2 separate regions of the Homo sapiens genome follow, and region 1 is linked to region 2. Evidence: fine-mapped expression QTL. A gene starts in region 2. The other region holds a variant in brackets. All regions are shown on one strand. Distances are from middle to middle.

Evidence for each region. PIP is the estimated chance that this variant, and not a neighbour inherited with it, causes the effect.
Region 1: its variant is the best candidate, but not a certain one, in a credible set for the expression of GRSF1 in fetal neocortex (Walker 2019, PIP 0.54).

What each region holds. Positions count from the first base shown.
Region 1 is chr4:70,880,652-70,885,041 of GRCh38, forward strand. No RefSeq gene overlaps it. Among named protein-coding and RNA genes, the nearest start is that of MOB1B, 20 kb to the right of the region's middle. The variant A/G (reference allele first, on the strand shown) is at 2,090.
Region 2 is chr4:70,837,643-70,842,032 of GRCh38, forward strand. GRSF1 (G-rich RNA sequence binding factor 1) reads right to left here and starts at 2,248. Exons shown (of 10, transcript NM_002092.4): 1 at 1,829-2,248. The coding sequence starts at 2,185. LOC124900710 (a long non-coding RNA gene) reads left to right here and starts at 1,350. Exons shown (of 3, transcript XR_007058131.1): 1 at 1,350-1,503. RefSeq lists enhancers at 951-1,605, 1,606-2,259 and silencers at 1,656-2,205, 2,266-2,515.

The DNA.
Region 1 (4,390 bases), 43 kb after region 2:
AATTTAGTTTCATTAGCTTAGACCTGAATAAGAGGTAGAGTTCGAGTTGCAGCAATGTTGATATGCTCCGTTAATACAATGTGTGTTTTGTGTGAAAGCAACCTTGACTTTAGTTATGCCATTCCACTTAAAAAAAATAAAATGGTGTTTCTTTCATGCAGTTAAATAGAAACTTACAGACAGTCTCATATTTCATACAAAATGTAGGCCTGATTTTTCATTGACTTATTAGAACGTTTTAGTAAAGTAAAATTAAGATGAATTTTTTGGAAGGTTAATGCTGAGTAGACAGAACTCATCTATTGCTTGGTAGTCACTGGTCAGTTTTTTAAAAAGTAAAATTCTTATACTAAAAAGAGCTTATTACAAAATACACTCTCGAGCAAGAGAATAGAATTCTGTTAATATAGTGAAAAGTAAATAATCTGCTTTTCTCCTTTCAGTGTACCGTTTGATAAGAAGACTTGATTACTTTTGTCAGGAATGAGAAATAAATCCAGTTGTTGTTTTGCTTGTACTTTGTTATTTATATTCAAGAAAGTGTTTTGAGTAATTTTAAAAGCCAGAAATTATAACCATATATTTTGTTTAAAGTAACTATAATAATTTGTGTTTGTTGGATTATATCATGATGGTAAATTGCTTTCAGTAGTAGAAGCAAGCCACTTTTTTTTTTTTTTTTTTTTTGAGATGGAGTCTCACTCTGTCACCCAGACTGGAGTGCAATGGCACAATCTCGGTTCACTGCAACCTCTGCCTCCCAGGTTCAAGCGATTCTCCTGGCTTAGCCTCCTGAGTAGCTGGGATTACAGGTTCGTGCCACAATGCCCAACTAAGTTTTGCATTTTTAGTAGAGATGGGGTTTCACCATGTTGGCCAGGCTGGTCTTGAACTCTTGACCTCAAATGATCTGTCCACCTTGGCCTCCCAAAGTGTTGGGATTACAGTCATGAGTCACTGAGCCCAACCAAAGCAAGCCGTTTCTGAAATACAACATTTTTTTCAGACAGGTTGATAATTATTAAGGAACACTGATTAATTTCCTTTAGTCCCTAAATATTTGAAATACCTAATGTGCTCTTGAAACCAACTTTTAAATTCTTATCTGCCCAGCCAACTGGATCCATTACAAAACAAAGGGGATAAATGAAGAGCTAAGCTAGACAACTAGTCTACCCATTATTTCATAATAAACTGAGTAGGGAGCTTTAGGTTCTAATGCCACCCTAAAAAAAAAATGGGCTAGTGTAAGGGCTAGGCACAGTGTCACACTTGTAATCCCAGCACTTTGGGAGGCTGAGGTGGGTGGTTGGCTTGGGCTCAGGAATTTGAGACCAACCTAGTCAACATGGCAAGACCCTTGTCTCTACAAAAAAATAAAAAATAAAAAGGACTAGTATAGTATGTTCCAAAATTTTAAACTCGAGGTCTTTTCCTTCAAATTAATCTCACACAAAACCTAATAAATACTTACTATAAAATAGATAGATAAGGAGTTTTCCCTTGGTAGTCCATGTGTCAAAGTAGGTATGGTGGCAGAATTCCCACACTATGAGTTCCTTCCCCAGCAACTTCGGCTGACCCTAGGATAGTGTTTCTGAAAATCTGTTCCCTAGATTCTGTCCCTCAGAATCAAACTTACTGAAGTACTACTGTTTTACCCTGGCCAAATGTCAAGAAGATACTATATCATATGATGGTGTATTGAGGACTAACAAATAATGAAAGTTTGCTGAAATTTTTCCCACCTCAATTTTCCACTGAAAAACACCTGGTTCACTGGAAATAGCAGTGTTATATTACCAACCAGATATCTTTTGTCATCTGTGTTTATGTCTTAAGCGAAAAATGAATAATGCAGCCATTTATCCATGAGGGTCTAAAATAAATGTTTTATCTTCATAGCATAGAAAAGAGAATTAGCTGGGCATGCCTGTAGTCTCAGCTTCTCAAGAGCCTGAGACAGGAGGATTGCTTGAGCCCCGCAGTTCGAGACCAGCCGGGGCAACACAGTGAGACCTCATCTCGAAAAATAAATAAATAAAAATGCTGCCAAGAAAAATGAATTAAAAGTTGAATATCAGTGCTG[A/G]TGGTATAAAGAAATGGGCTAAACTAACAATAGAGACAATTAAATTATACTTCGCAAATCTAAATGGGGTGATTACAAAGTAGTAGTAAAGCTTATTTTAATACAGTCTATCATTACAGCTTCTTTTTAAATTACAAACCTGGTAACCTAATGCTTTAAAAAACACCATTGTTCTTCACTGCTCATCAGATCAAGCTAAGATTATTACTTAGGCTACAAAATTGGTCATGATCTAGTTCCAAGTAGATCTCAGTAGCCTTGATCCCTGCTGATCTGTACTATGTGCACTATGTCCACTGGCACAGAACTCTAAACTATTTTCTGAAGAGAAGCTTCTTGTTATTTTCTTTTTTCATGCTGTAAAAGGAGTACATGCACCATCAGAAAATGCTAAAAGAAGAAAATGAAAATCATTCCATAATATCATCACTGTTAACAAAGTGGTGTTTTACCTTGAAGAAGGAGGAACGGAGCCATGAGCCAAGGAATGCAAGTAGCCTCCAGAAGTTAGAAAATGCAAGGAAACTTTCAGGTCATCTTGTAGAGGCACCAGAAGAAACACAGCCTGATGACACCTTGATTTTAGCCCAGTTAAACTCATTTTGGATTTCTGACCTCCAGAATTGTAAGATAATAAACTTAAGTCACCAAGTTTATAGTAATTTGTTACAGCAGCAATTGGAAACTAATACAACACTGTATGAAATTTAAGGCACAGCAACCAGGTGCAGTGGCTCAATGGCTGTAATCTCAGCACTTTGGGACACCAAGGTGGGTGGATCACCTGAGGTCAGGAGTTCAAGACCAGCCTGACCAACATGTTGAAACCCCGTCTCTACTAAAAATACAAAAAATTAGCCAGGCGTGGTGGCACGTGCCTGTAATCCCAGCTACTCAGGAGGCTGAAGCAGGAGAATTGCTTGAACCTGGGAGGCAGAGGTTACAGTTGAGCCAAGATTGCACCATTGTACTCCAGTCTGGGCAACAAGAGCAAAACTCCATCTCAAATAATAATAATAAATAACAAAATGAAATTTAAGTCACAGCAGAGCAGCATTGTATTATGCCTATTTTAAAATTTATTTCGTCACTAGCATCCAATAGTTATCTTTGGCCCCTTACATTTGTTTTCTTTTTTTTTTTTTTGACACAGCGTCTTACTCTGTGGCTCAGGCTGGAGTGCAGCAGTGTGAACACAGCTCACTGCAGCCTCGACCTCCTGGGCTTAAGCAATTCTCCTGACTCAGCCTCCCATGTCACTGGGACCACAGGCACACACCACCATGCTTGGCTAATTTTTGAATTTTTTGTAGAGACAGGGTTTCACTTTGTTGCCCAGGCTGGTCTTGAACTCCTGTGCTCAAGCAGTCCTTCTGACTTGGCCTCCCAAAGTGTTGGGATTACAGGCATGAGCCACAGTGCCTGGCCTGGTAACCTTACTTTTTTTTTTTTTTGAGTTGGAGTTTCACTCTGTCACCTAGGCTGGAGTGCAGTGGTGCGATCTTGGCTCACTGCAACCTCCGCCTCCCAGGTTCAAGCAATTCTCCTGCCTCAGCCTCCCAAGTAGCTGGGACTACAGGCGCCCGCCACCATACCTGGCTAATTTTTTGTATTTTTAGTAGAGATGGGGTTTCACCGTATTAGCCAGGATGATCTGGATCTCCTGACCTCGTGATCCGCCTGCCTCGGCTTCCCAAAGTGCTGGGATTACAGGCATGAGCCACCGCGCCCGGCCAATCCCTTACTTTTTAAGAGCTTATATTTGGGAAGTTTCACATTGCTATAAAAATTTCAGTGTTTTTTTGATGACCTTGGGCTATAAATTTAGAATAGTAGCTGAATATAGAGTGAGGATGCATACCATAGACAGATGTCAGTTTTGCTCACTAATATTTATCTAACATCTGTAGAGTGCTGGGCACATGGTAAACACTCAGTAAATATGCATGGAATGAACTGAATGCATCAAGTCAAATTCATTTTTTTTTTTTTTTTTTGAGACAAGGTCTTGCTCTGTCACCTAGGCTGGACTACAGTGGCAAGATCTCAGCTCACTGCAACCTCCGGCTCCCAGGTTAAAGCAATTCTACTGCTTCAGCCTCCCAAGTAGCTGGGACTACAGGCATGCACCATCATGCCCAGCTAATTTTTTGTATTTTTAGTAGAGGCAGGGTTTCACCATGTTGGCTAGGCTGGTCTCGAACTCCTTACCTGGCTGGTCCTTTGACTTGGGCCAGGCACGGTGGCTCACGTCTGTAATCCAAACACTTTGGGAGGCTGAAGCGGGTGGATCACTTGAGG
Region 2 (4,390 bases):
CTTTTCTTTTTTCTTGAGACGGAGTTTCGCTCTTGTCGCCCAGACTAGAGTATAATGGCACAATCTCGGCTCACTGCAACCTCCCCGGGTTCAAAGGATTCTCCTGCCTCAGCCTCCCGGGTAGCTGGGATTACAGGCGCCCGCCACCCCGCCCGGCTAATTTTTTTGCATTTTTTTAGTAGACACGGAGTTTCACCATGTTGGTTAGCCTGCTATCGAACTCCTGACCTCAGGTGATCCACCCGCCGCAGCCTCCCAAAGTGCCGCGCCCAGCCCTATCTATAATTTTCATTAAGGCTTAATGTTAGGCCGGGCGCGGTGGCTCACGCCTGTAATCCCAGCACTTTGGGAGGCAGAGGCGGGCGGATCACGAGGTCAGGAGATCGAGACCACGGTGAAACCCCGTCTCTACTAAAAATACAAAAAATTAGCTGGGCGCAGTGGCGGGCGCCTGTAGTCCCAGCTACTCGGGAGGCTGAAGCAGGAGAATGGCGTGAACCCGGAAGGCGGAGCTTGCAGTGAGCCGAGATCATTCCACTGCACTCCAGCCTGGGCGACAGAGCGAGACTCGGTCTCCAAAAAAAAAAAAAAAAAAAGGCTTAATGTTTAGTTTTAAGGAATAAATGTAAGCAGTGTCTAACACATAGTAGATGCTCTACAGATATCACCGCAGTCAATTTCATAGAAAAAAAAAGAGAGAAGCTAGCTCACAAAGGTTTACTGGAGATGGTTTTGTTGTGGTTTTTGTAGACAACTTTCCCCATTTTTCCATAATTCCATAAGCATCACAAGCTTTTACAGAAAAAGGCAGCGTAAAGTATTGGGCCAGGATTCAAATCAATTAGCTCAGCCACTGGCAGACAGCAGCCATGCTGATTAGCCTCCCAGTCTCCCTAAGTTAAAGGAGAAGCACAAATTGAATTAAGATAAATATGACCTAAGGAATCAGGGGCTGGGTAGTTAAAAAGTGTGCAGACACTTCCCAGATGCCACGTACCAAGAAGAGAAAGGTTCATCTACAAAGCACAAAATATTTGCAATCTAACTACACACCGACTTTTCTAAAAAAATAAAGAAAAAATGGAAAGGAAAACATTGCAAATTCATTCCTGGGACCCCAAGTTGTGTCCTCAACCCTCAACGCTCCCTCCCATTCACCCCCTCCCCCCAACAGCTAAATCTCCAAACTGCTTTCCCAGACGAGGCGACACACAGTCCTTAAAGACCTTCTGTATGAGTGGAGTTGCAGAGGTGACCTTCAGTAAACCGGGACAGCTCGTCTTTCCCTGGGGACAGGAGAGGGAACGGCGCGATGGGGACAGGCTCCTTCCCTACAAGCCAGCCCACGCAACTGTGTGCGCGCACCTTCCCAGCAGCGGCCGACCGAGAGGCGCCGAGGGCCGCCCAGGCCTAGCGCTCGGGCTGCACGGAAACTCCCAACCCTCCGGCGGGCTCGGGCCTCGCAACTTCACAACCAGCCGGCGGAAAGCAAGAAGATGCGAGGTGGGGGCGTCAGCAGCCTCACGAAACCTACCATGGGCCAGGCGGGGAACAAGGCCTCAACATTCACCCCAGCCACACTTACACTGCCCAACCGACCAGAGACTCGAGGCGAGAACAAAACAAGCAGAAGACCCGACGCCTGGGAGAGCTTCCCTTGTTCCAGGGCCCAATAGGAGCACAGGGTGGACGGGGGCGGGTGTGCGGCGAGTGTCGCGGATCCCCGGGCGTGCCCGCGAGGCGCACACGGAGGGACGGAGGGGCGCGGGGGCGCGTGCACGCGGCCCGGGAGGGATCTCGCGCCAGGTCCCTCACGGCGCCCACGTACCTGGCTGTAGCTGCGCGTCGGGACGGCGGCCGCCGCCGCCAGCGACTGCGGCAGCAGAGAGGCACGGAGGGCAGAGTAGGACGCGGCGGCCGCGGCCGCGGCAGAGGTGGCCACAGCGGGAGGCCCCGCCAGCCTCCCGGGAGGCACAGGCCCGGTCTGGAGGCCACGCGTCTGGGAGGCAGCGGCCGCGGCGGCCCCGAGCAGCAGCAGCAGGCGGCGGCGGCCCGAGACGCCCGACGGGATAGAGCCAGCGGCGGAGTAGAAGGGCAGGCAGGCGGCGCCGGTGCGCCGGCAGCTGCTGCAGTTACAGCCGCAGCCCCGGAGCAGCGCCCCGAGTACCCAGCGCGTGCCGGCCATGGACTCCGGAGGCGGCGCAGGGCCTGAAGGCAGCTGCTCCAGCAGCGATGGTGGAACGGAAGTGGAATCCAGGGCCGGTTGGGGGTGGGGTGTGCCTGGCACATGCGCCGCGGGCACTGGGTGGGGGGCCTCCGAGAGTCGGAAGGAGGTGGAGGAGAGCGCGACGCTCCGCCCAGTCTCCGCCCTTGGGCGGGGCTGCCCATGGTTTGGGCGGGGCTGCCCATGGTTTGGGCGGGGCTGCCCATGGTTTGGGCGGGGCTGCCCATGGTTTGGGCGGGGCTGCCCATGGTTTGGGCGGGGCTGCCCATGGTTTGGGCGGGGCTGCCCATGGTTTGGGCGGGGCTGCCCATGGTTTGGGCGGGGCTGCCCATGGTTTGGGCGGGGCTGCCCATGGTTTGGGCGGGGCTGCCCATGGTTTGGGCGGGGCCCGGGGAAGTGGGTGCAATCGAACTGCTCTTTTTTCAGGCGGTGGAAACTGAGGCCCAAAGTAAGTGAGGCTAGGGGCCTGGCGCAGTGACTCATTCGTAGTGACTCATTCTTGTAATCCTAGCACTTTGGCAGGCAGAGGCGGGTGGACTGCCTGAGGTCAGGAGTTCGAGACCAACCTAGGCAACACGGTGAAATCCCGTCTCTACTAAAATACAAAAAATTAGGTCGGACGCGGTGGCTCCCGCCTGTAATCCCAGCACTTTAGTAGGCCGAGGTAGGGCGGATCACCTGAGGTCAGCAGTTCAAGACCAGCCTGGCCAACATGGTGAAACTGTGTCTCTACTAAAAACACAAAAATTAGCCGGGTGTGGTGACGGGTGCCCGTAATCCCAGCTACTCAGGAGGCTGAGGCAGGAGAATCGCTTGAACCCAGGAGGCGGAGGTTGCAGTGAGCCAAGATCGTGCCACCGCACTGCAGCCTGGGCGACAGAGTGAGACGCCATCTCCAAACAAACAAACAAAAAAATTAGGTTAGGGCCATCCTGCTCTGGGTAGGGCCGAGAGCTGTAGCACAAGTCTGTGCTGCCCTGCGCTGTGCCACCGAAACCCGTGGTGTGAGTGGCTAAAGAACCCTTTCTGAAAGGAATTGTGATACCTTGGTTATAAAAAAATCGTTGGGATAATATCAGAGATTTGGTACCCCCCGAATTTGAGGTATGTGAGGAAGGAGAACTTCGTTGTTTTAAAATGAAATATAGGCCTGGCGTGGTGGCTCATGCCTATAATCCCAGCGCTTTGGGAGGCTGAAGTGAGAGGATCACTGGAGCCCAAGAGTTCCAGACCAGCCTGGGCAACATAGGGAGACCCCGTCTATACAAAAAATAAATAAAGCTGGGTGTGATGGCGTGGGCCTGTAGTCCCAGCTACTTGGGAGGCCGATTGCTTCAGCCCAGAAGGTAGAGGCTGTGGTAAGCTATGATTGCCACCACTGAACTCCAGCCTGGGTGACAGAGTGAAACCCTGTCTCTAAAAAAATAAAAGAAAACATATATATTTATTATGTACTGATAATACATAACAAAGGTGAACCCTCCCCTAATGAAACTGTATTCACAAGTGAACACACAGAGATTTGCACACACATACACAAAGACTGGTTGTGCAGCTTTTCTCCTCCTGAGCCAGGACTTGTCAAAGACAAGCAAAAGGAAGTTGTTAGAGTAAAAAATAAGAGAAAGCTAGTATTTTTAAAAACTCCTTACTGTGGAAAATGTCAAACAGAAGAGCAGAATGAATTTCCAGAACTTCATAAATTGTCAACACTTTTCAGTCTTGTTTCATCTATCCCCTACCACCATCTTCCAGACCTTATTTTCTTTGCTAGAATATTTTAAAGCAATGGGTATTACATTTAAAGTTTGACTTGTTTAACCTGGACTACTTTTAGGTAAGGAAAATTCAGTATTTCTTAGAAAACCCTTTCCCCAACCAAAAAACAAAGAACAAGAAAAAAATTGATAGGCTTGGCTCTATGAACCTGGAGTATCAAAGAAAAAGGGGTTTAGTTTTGTTTTTTGGGCTAAAATACAGTCCGACGGAGAGTATTGTCATTTTTATACAAAAACAGGGACAAAAGAAAAGGCAACAGTGCAAATACTCCATCTTCCAGGAAGGGAGGCTGGGATGCCTCAGTGTTAAAATGACAAAAGAAAACCCCAGAGCAAGAACCATGATCCCTCAGAGGAGTCCCAGAAATGTCCAAGACAGCCTGGCTGG